Linked DNA regions of Homo sapiens. The protein of the gene in region 1 interacts with the protein of each later gene in a pairwise test. Each region holds a gene or a part of one and is shown in the gene's direction. Other genes may lie near its edges.

Evidence for each region.
Region 2: the proteins of MEGF10 (region 1) and VWA8 interact in a two-hybrid assay, tested with the Homo sapiens proteins (one large-scale study listed by IntAct).

The regions. Positions count from the first base shown.
Region 1 is NC_000005.10:127,457,735-127,462,952, forward strand, and holds the end of MEGF10 (multiple epidermal growth factor-like domains protein 10 isoform a precursor), read left to right. Parts: 3' UTR 1-3,488; downstream 3,489-5,218. UniProt on the Homo sapiens protein: Membrane receptor involved in phagocytosis by macrophages and astrocytes of apoptotic cells. Receptor for C1q, an eat-me signal, that binds phosphatidylserine expressed on the surface of apoptotic cells. Cooperates with ABCA1 within the process of engulfment.
Region 2 is NC_000013.11:41,684,283-41,689,536, reverse strand, and holds part of VWA8 (von Willebrand factor A domain-containing protein 8 isoform a precursor), read left to right. Parts: intron 1-28; coding exon 29-183; intron 184-4,294; coding exon 4,295-4,490; intron 4,491-5,254. UniProt on the Homo sapiens protein: Exhibits ATPase activity in vitro.

The DNA.
Region 1 (5,218 bases):
CTTCATGAAAGTGGGAATCACTGAACATGTAGAAGACAAGGAACATATTGTTAACTCCTGATTCTTAACTTTATTCAACTGGACTCAGAATTGTAGGGATAATATGAATGCAGGAGGAAACATTCTGTCAGGCGGTATGACTGGACAGACTTTGAATATACTCTAAAAGTGGACAGAAAATTTACGAAAATCTTAGATTTTGTTTAGAATGAGAAAATATACAATTAGAATTATTTTAGAAATAGTAGGAAGTATTGCAGAAGTCAATACACAAATGTGCCAGGCAGAGGTGGTTTTCTCTGTTTGACTCTCAACCAACTTCAGATCTATGACATTATTCTGATCACTGGCTCCATCATACATATTCACCACTTGAGATTCATAACATATCAATAGTTATTTCATAAATATAGAAATGAAATAATTTTATTTTTGACAGACTGGATGGAATGAGTGTGTAATGATTGATAAAGGTTGTAAATTTTAAATGCAAGATGACGCTTACGTTCTGTAAACCATTAGTAATACATGCTGTAATATAGAATTAGTGGAACATTTTGATTAATCTTTCCCTAGAAGTGACTGAAATATTTTTGTGCATATTTGAGAAAGGGAACTTTCCTTTTATTAATTGTCAATTTAGAGAAACTATGCTTAAGCTGGTCTTTTGCATTGCTAATGTGACATGTACCCAACTTTTCATTAATTTGTATTTCCATTTTTAAATTGCATATTCTATGTTTTGTAGTGTTTGGATTGTTAATGAAAAAATATTATATGTTCGTTATTCCTTGTATTATTGCCACTTATCTTTTGCTTGATAAAAATGCGTTGTTCTTTTTTCTTTTGGAGGGACAAGATGAAAATATATAATTTGAATTGATTAAAATTGGTCGTTACTAAAATAGTATAGTAACCACAAGTGATTGGCTTATAAATGAAGTAGAAATGCTTTTTAATATTCCAAAATAGAGTTCCTTTTGATCTGTTGGTGCTGAGCCTTGGTTAAACCAGGGAGAAGGGGAGCAGAAAGGAAACGTTGTTACTGATGAGTACCACAGACTCATCTTAAAAAAAACTCTCATTATGGTGATCATAGAATTGACCATCCAAACTGGGACACTCTTGAGAGTAAATGGAGGGCATTATTAATAATTATCTTGTAATGAACTTAAATCTGGACTGTTCCAGGCAAACCAGACTTATCTTGCAATATGAGAATGCTGACACAATGCAGGAAAGCCAGTTTCCCTTTTGTTGATCTACTTGACCAAGCAAAGGGGCTGAAAAACTGAATAAGGAAACAACTTTATAAGAGAAACAGTGGTCTTCAATCTTTTAAAGACATGAAATCCTATATGGCATTCTGTCTCAGTGAGTCAGTTAACAAATACGTATGTGCAACCCTTCTGCTAGTAGTGCACATAAGTGATTATCCCTGCCAGGTATCGAGTTGGAATATCCAGTTATTTCATGTCACACATCGGCACGTATGATGGTGGTTTGGTCAGATGGATAATACAGCAGACACACTTAGAACACTCACTGCACTGGTGGCTGTTCATTTTGAGGAACTCCAAAGTCAATTCAAGGAAATAAGGAATGACCTGGAACAGGCCTTAGAAACAATTGATTTATTCCAATAGTTAACCACTGGCTGGCTCCCAACTCTAGGTGATAGGCATCTAATTGAGACATGTGTGAGTCAATAGCCATCGGGGTCCTTTTTGGTGAGAAGAAATAAGACATTTTCTCCCTTTTAAAGATCATCTCTTCAGAGCTGCATGGTAAATTTGAATTTCCCCATTGTTCTCTAGAGCTAGGTCAAAAAAACAACTGTTTCTTTTCTTATTCCACTATTAATAAATTGAAAGCTTGCTGTACAAAGGCAACAGCAACTTAAAAAAGAAAATCTGGACAATAGATGTGGACTCCAAGGGGCCACTGCCATCCCTTCCTGTGTGCTCTTTTTGACAAGTAAATCACTCCAGTTAGCTGATGTCCTGAAATGACATTTGTACCTGAGGCAATTCTTATTAGAGCTTACTCAGGACTTTTCAAACATCAGGACACACATAGCAATTTGGATGTTGTAAAACTACGTGTTACATTTGGAGAGGTCTTGTTGAGAAGGCAAAATTTTCTAAATATTTTGATATCAATTTGGGTAAAGAAAGGAATACTTTTGTTAGAATGAGAATTAAAGAGAAAACAAAAGAATCTTGGCAAAATTTTCCCTCTGAAATTACAAACTTTAGGAACTTTTCCAGATGTATCGAATTTAATTTGACATTGATGTCACTCTTCATACCAAGTGAATCTATTCTCATGAACTTTGAACCCATGTTAATTTTGGACCCTATAACTAATTTCCTTTCTGTATCCCATGGTGGTCAAAGCAGTAAAGGAGTTTAGAGATACTTAGCAAATGCCATTCATATAGTATTGTTAGCCAAACTATTATTCCTTCCTTAGAAGTTGATGTATCAGAAAATTTATAAGTTATTTGTATTTATATATAAGTACATCAGAACTTGCCCACATGATAACTCATGTTTGCTTTAATAAGGAAAATATGTTATTTGAGGTTAATTATATGATAGTGAGGAACATTTTACAATTATTTACAGTGTTTGACATTAATTGCTGTCCTATGATACAGTAGTAATGTTAACAGAGAGTTTAATATGTTTAGCATTATCTTTATGGAATTTATATTCACCAATTTCAGGAAAACCAACCATAGAACTTTATAATAGGACAGTTATAACCTGACTGAACCAAATCCATCAGCATAATGACTGTGTGTTCTGAGAAATGCAAACAACTTTATGAAAGTGTGGTCATCTTGACCCCCAAAGAGCCACAGTAGCTGTCAATTATTGAGATTTTTAAATGGTAAATATTGCAAAAGTTAAACAAGGGTACCACAATATCATTTATAATTGATGTCAATATTAGTAGTCCACTTTATGCTTAAAATAAAATCATAAAAAATCAAGTTTTAAGGTTATATTTTTTAAAATAATGAATTTTCTATCTCTAGGCAACATGTCTTTATTATTCAAGCTGAATGTTTAAGAGAGATTTTGGTCTTAAAGGCTTCACATCATGAAAGTGTACATGCATATGCAAGTGTGAATTACGTGGTATGGATGTTTGCTTGTTTATTAACTAAAGATGTACAGCAAACTGCCCGTTTAGAGTCCTGTTAATATTGATGTCCTAACACTGGGTCTGCTTATGCTAGTTCAGTATTTGGTCTAGGCTTCATTTTGATATGACTGAATTGCAATCTATATTTTTAAAAAGAAAAATCAAAATACATTAGGGTTTACTTGGTTGTGGCAAACAAACAAAAAATGCTTTCAGTGTTGAAATATCTCTATTTTCCAAAGATGATAAACTTTCATCGTTCTTAGCCTACATTGTCATTTATATCACCAAATGAGTTTATAGATTAATGCAATAAACTTTCTAATAAAAAACTCTAGTGTTTCTTTCTATATCTGATTCTACTGTTGATTAATGAGAGAAAAAACCTTGTGCTCGTATGGAAAAAATAATATTTTTTCTTGTTCTTGAAGGACAGAGGCAACATTTTATTCATATTTGGATCCCTGGAACTCAGGTTAGGGGCTGATAGTCAAGTCTTCTGTAACTAGCTTTAGGTTATCTTATGTGGATTTGCTTTCTAAATCTCAGTGCCCATTAGTACTTTCATTTATGACTAAAACATCTTTGAAACATTTGCATTATAGCACTGCGGAGCAGGGATCAAACATGAGTAAAACATTGTTTCTTCTTTCAATAGCTGTTTCTTTACTGGGGCCCTGAATGCCAAGCACAGCTGGGGATGCAGAGACGTGTAAGGCATGAGCTGTTTTGGAGTCCTTCATTATTTAGTTAGGGAAATAAAGCATATGGCTGGCTGTGTGACTGGTTCTGTGGGTTAAGTTAGCCTCTTAAGGCCTTGGCTTCTATATTGCAATACATTGGAAGTAACAGTACAATAAATTTCATAGGGTTTGTGAGAATTTAATAACTTTATACATACAAAACACTTCAGTGCCTGGCATACACTAAGCACCTCGTAAATGTTAGCTGACATTGCTATTATGAAAAATTAGCTAATAATATGAACCAGTTTGCAATAACCAGATGAATGATGGGGCTAATAGATCAGAAGAGAGTATTTAATGAATATTATAGAAGCTATACATTTGAATGACCATATCCTGATCTATTTTTATACTAGCACAAAATTCCATACATATTTTATTTCTAGAGATGTAATTTAGGAAAGCAATAATATGTTTATATTTTCCAGTAACATGTTATCTAATTGGAATTAGGAATGCTTTTACAACATTTGGATGTGAGTTTCTGAGGAAAATGGTGACCTGGGAACATTCTAGAGAATATGACCATCCAGAAAAAGTCAAGGGCTGGTTTTGGCAACCAGAAGGGGTTCTGCATACAGGGAGGCATCAAGTCCTTGAAAGAATGTGCCAGTTGGGGCTAAAGATGTAAATGAGAGTTAATGCGAGGTGGAGAGGGTGCATGATGAGAGTCAGCTATCTTGGGTGGATACACAAAGACAAGGGAAGGTAGAAATGTTTCTGCTGTTTGCATTATGCGGCAATGAAAGAGGCAAACTGTTCCCCGGGTGATGGCACTTAGGAGAGGCAGTTTCCACATTGGGCTGAGGTCAACCTATCTCCACTTGGACTCGTGAACTGAGGCCTTCTGCCACTTACATCAGTAAAAGGGATAAGGCTGGGTTTGGTAGCTCATGCCTGTAATTCCAGCACTTTGGGAGGCTGAGGCAAGAGGACTGTTTGAGCCCAGGAGTTTGAGACCAGCCTGGGCAACATGACAAAACCCAGTATCTACAAAAAATACAAAAAATTATCTGGGCATGGTGATGTGCACCTGTAGTCCCAGCTACTCGGGAGGCTGAGATAGGAGGATTGCTTGAGCCTAAAGGTTTAAGGCTGCAGTGAGCCATGATCGCACCGCTGCACTCCAGCCTGAGCCACAGAGTGAGACCTTGTCTCAAAAAAGAAACAAATAAACAAACAACAAAGGGACTAAACTAATCACCAGCTAGTCACTAAAGAAAAAATGCCTACCCTAACTGTCAAATCAGAGGCAATACAAACCTGCACCCTCTCAGTATAAATAGACAAAGAAAGATCACAACCCACTCAGGAAC
Region 2 (5,254 bases), on another chromosome or scaffold:
TATGGTGTCTAATGTTTGTACTTTTCAGAAACAGAGTTCAGCATACCTCATAAAATTTCCAGTGATCAACTATCATCTGAACATCTAAGTTCAGCTGTGGAACAAAAGATTGCCTCTCCCAACAGAATTCTCTCAGATGAGAAAAATTATGCTACAATAGTTGTTGGTTTTCCAGATCTCATGGTAAGCACCCATTTTTTAAATTATCGGATAAATGTTTCTTTCCCTTAGTTTGACCTATAATCTGTAAGCCTGTTTGAGGGGTAATTAAAAACATAATTTCCTGGTAAACATGTTGGATCAAGTCTTCCTTCCAAATCAGTCAGTAGAAAATATGTTATACCTAAATAGTTTCATTACACTTCAAAAATTAACATTGAAAGCGTAATGCAATGATAGAATTTAGTAGGGGGAAATGAGTATTCTCCATATGTGGGGGTTCATGTAATACAGTTTAAATGCTTAACCTTCTGATGGTAATTTTCTGTCATGTCTTCTATAATTTTTTAAAGTTAATTATTTTTCCATCTACACATTCTATATATTTATTTATTAACTTTTATTTTAGGTTCAAGTGTACGTGTGCAGGTTTGTTATATAGGTAAATTGCATGTCACAGGAGTTTGTTGTACAGATGGTTTGGTCATCCAGATAATAAGCATAGTACCTGATAGGTAGTTTTTTGATCCTCACCCTCCTCCCACTCTCCACCCTCAAGTAGGTGTCAGTATCTGTTGTTCCCTTCTTTGTGTCCGTATGTCCTCGATGTTTCGCTCCCACTTGTGAGAACATGTGATATTTGGTTTTTTGTTCCTGTGTAAAGTTAAATTTGTTGGATTGTCATTATTGTAGATTAAAATTTTCAACAGTCATGAAGATAGATTTATTTTCCATTGAGTTTTGCTCTGATTTATCATATCTTTGCAGCATCCAGGTTATAGTATAATGGCTAATTGTCTCAATTGATTTTCCTCTTAGATGGGCCCTTCTGTTATCTCCTATTACCTATAAAGGAGAAGCTATTTGAATTGACTGTAGGTGAAACTGGGCGACATCTTCCTCTGATGGAAATGTGGGGAAATTAATTATAAAAGTTATTTCAGTCCAAGTTGCCATCTAACAACCTTAGATGTAGCTCCATGTGTTCTGACTAAACATTTAATTTTTATAATTTCCTTTGTAGCTTTTAGATGGGATGATAGAATTATTTAAAGATAAAAATATGGGCTCTGCTTGACGGTACTCCAATTTTGTATGCCTCAACATTTTAATATAGTTAATGAATGCTGGGTACTTCAGGATATAAGATTTGAAATCTAAAACTCAATGGATAATGTGGCTTAGGACTCTGATGTATGTTTTCCTAATTATCAAGTTAAAAGCATCTGCTATCATGTAATTCAAAATGAAACGTTATTGAAATACAGTGTTTATAGCAGCCTTGATATGAAAGAGATGTGTTTTATATGCTTTCTACAATGTTTGCTGCTGTAAAAAAAAAATTGGGACTTTTTCTGGAGATAAAACTATTTTAAAAATTGATCTTCTAATTACCTTCTTCTGATTGAAGAAATCAATATAGAAGTATAATGTTATTATAAAAAGTTAGAAAATAAAAGCTAAGTTAAGGCACTGTTTCTATTAACCTTGTAGAAATTCTTATAGCCTGTAACACTAGTGACCTTGTTAAATTAAAAGCTATATCCCTGCTACTTAGTGTGGTACCTACCACATAGGAGGTATTTAATGAGTATTTGTTAAATAGAAGATTAGAGTCAGCTAGGCAGCCTTTAAGATGACAGTAATACTTTTAGGCCACAACAGAATAGGCAGTGTGCTGCTCTAAGCCCTTTCATACATGATAGTTAATTTTTACAACAATTCTATGAGGTTTTACAAATGAAAAAAATAGAAACAGACAGAGCTTATATCCCCTAGGCCACAAAGATTATAAGCAATGGAATTTGAGCTCAAGTGTGACTAGCCAGCCCTCTAACACACATCCTTTTACCACACCACACTGCCTTCTTGCTTTATGTGAACTTCTTTGGATTATGTATGAAACTATTGACAAATGAGTATGCTACCTCTTATTAACTTTTTCATAGAGTTATCAGTGGCATCTAAATTATTACTTGTATAACTTTTAAAATCTAATACCAAATAGCTATAAGAATCTGTAGCAAATATCATCCTCAATGGTGAAACATCAAAAGTATTTCTTTTCTTTTCTCATTAGAAATAAAACAAGGTTGCCCACTGTTACCATTCTATTAAACATGGTAATAGTGTCTTAGACATGATATATAAAGAGAAAATTGATAAATTGTGCTGCATCAAAATTTAAAATTTGAGCTCTGTTAAAAGACACTGTTAAGAGAATGAAAAGACAATCTACAGGCTGGGAAAAAATATTTGCAAACCACATTTCCAACAAAAACTGGTATCTAGAGTCTATAAAGATTCTTAAAACTTAACAGTCAGAAGGCAAATAGCCTAATTTTACAAATGAGCAAATAGTAGGCCAGTGTGAGTTATCAAAGATCAGAGCCCAAGCAAGGTAAGGACATCTATGGTGGGGAGAGGTAACCACTAGTGATGGACGTTAAGCCCAAACAGGATGAAGATGGCATTCCTGTGAAGGGGCAGCCTGGAATGGGATGTAGGAGCCCAAGTAAGGTGAAGTATGTGTCCCTGTGTGAGTGCAGCCCCTATGGGCTGTCAGAACCCAAGCAGGTAGAGTGGAGCATCTGCCCAGGGAGTAAGGTTAGTGGTGGAGATGGGAGATGGGTCACATACAGTGGACTTGAGCAAGAAAGTAAATATATGAAGGGTAACAAAATACATTAAGGATAATGAAAACAAATTTTTAACTGTTGGAGAGGGGAATTACAGATACTGAAAGGAAGAAAACTAGAATGAACCATGTAGTTATTAGATTGGAATTGGATATATTTTTGTGAACTCATAGATTTCAATGTATTTAGGTAGATATAGAAGTAAAATTAAAGGTAAATGTGAAAAAAAAAATGAGCAAAAGACTTGAACAAACACTTAACCAAAGAGGATAGAGGGATGGCAAATAAGTACATGAAAAGTTATTGGACATCATTAGTCATTAGAGAAATGCAAATTAAAACCATGATGAGATACTAGTACCTACCCGTTAGAATGGCTAAAATAAAAAAAACACTGACAATACCAAGTACTGATAAGGACGCAGAGAGCTAATGCAACTCATTATTGCAAGGGCAAACAATAACCAGAACATCTCTGAAGAAGGACCAGACAGAAGTACTCTTCCTATTAAATTTCAAGGATAATTATAAAACTTCAGTAACTAAGACCATGTATTGGCCTGGGAATAGAAAAATGCACCATAGAACAAAATGCAGTGCCCAGAAACAGATACCTGCATATAAACTGTGTTTTATGATACTGTTGCTATGGGCAAAAGTTAGTGGTATTTGGACAATAAACTATACATGTGAGAAAAGGATGAATGCAGATCCCCACTTCATACCATTCACAAAAATTAATTCCTGATAGGCTAAGGACTTCACTATGAAAGATAAAGCCTTAAAACTTTTAGAAAAAGCATAAGAAATTATCTTTATGATCTTAGGAAGGATAAATACATACGTGGTAAAAATTTAAAGTAAAGCAAGGGAAAAATAACACAAAATTCCAGAAGAGTTAAATCTAGGGGAGAGAGAGAATGACTGGGAAGGGGCCCAATCACTTTTGAAGCCCTCCCAGGGCTTTAAAAATGCTAGTTATGTTCTATTATGTATAGATGTTTACTTTATTTTTTAACTAATTCCTATATTTCTTCTGTTTAGTTGTAATTGATTTCAAGGTAAAAAATTTAACTTGTATATTTTACACTTGTCTGAAAATTATGATTATTGACAAAGCAGCTACCTCCTTCCTGTACCACATCCAAATGACTTTATTTATTTTTTGTTTGTTTAAGACAAGATCTCCTCAGTAGCTGGGAATACAGACATGTGCCACGATGTCTGGCTGATTTTTGTATTTTTTATAGGGACGGGGTTTCACTATGTTGCCCAGGCCAGTCTCAAACTCCTGAACTCAAGTGATCCACCAACCTTGGCCTCCCAAAGTACTGGGATTACAGGCATGAGCCACTGTACCCAGCCAATAATTTGATTTTCTTATACCTGTGAAACATTAGTTTCCCACTAGTATCTGCTTAAAGGGCTGCGTTGTTAAGGTTGTGGTGAATGTAGTATATGGTACTTCAGTACTTTAATCTCTTTCTTTTTTTCAGTCACCCAGTGAAGTTTATTCTTGGAAGAGACCATCATCTTTGCATAAACGAAGTGGCACTGATACATCATTCTATAGAGGAAAGAAGAAAAGGGGGACTCCAAAACAAAGCAATTGTGTGACTCTTTTAGATACGAATCAGGTAGTGAGGATTTTACCCCCAGGAGAAGTCCCTCTAAAAGATATCTACCCAAAAGGTAAGAAGGAACTCACCAATTCCTAATTTACAAAGGTGGTTTAAAGTAGCTTCCTTTTGGTAGAGGATATTTAATTTATCTTTATCATTTCATACTTATAAAAATTGATCATTCCGACAAGTTTAGAAGTAACTAAAAAGACCTCTCCGTATTCAGAAAGTTCTTACTCATTTTCACAGTGTGTGGTTGTGGCCACTGCTGTTAGAGCTCATCTTCATTTATATTATAATATATGCAGTAACTTTACCTAAAAGATGTTTTCACAGAGCCTTTTAAAAAGTCTTAGTATATTAGGCATAGAAACTGAGGCCTGCCTTTTGTCTTAAACTCCTAAGACTGAAAGTCAGGGGCTTATCGTGCAGACTGATTCACTTAACAGCACTCTGAAAGTCAACTTATATTTATTACTGCATAAAATATCCAATTCCTGGGATGATCTCCTTTCCTTGTATAAATTCACTTACTCCTTAAAACCCCATCCTATTGTTAGCATGCTCTCTAATTTATACATGAAGATATTCTGACACAGAACTAAAATAACTGGCCCAGGATCACCCCACCAGTGGACAACAGTGCCCAGATTTGCACCACAATCTTCTAATCCCAAGTTTAGATCTATTCTTATTGAACCACACTGGCATTCATCATAACAGATAACTATGAAAAAGTTTGATCATTGATTAATTGACTTTTTTTTTTTATGTCACAGTGGTAGTGATATATTATCTTGTGTCTATATGCATTGTATTAGTGTGGACTTCACA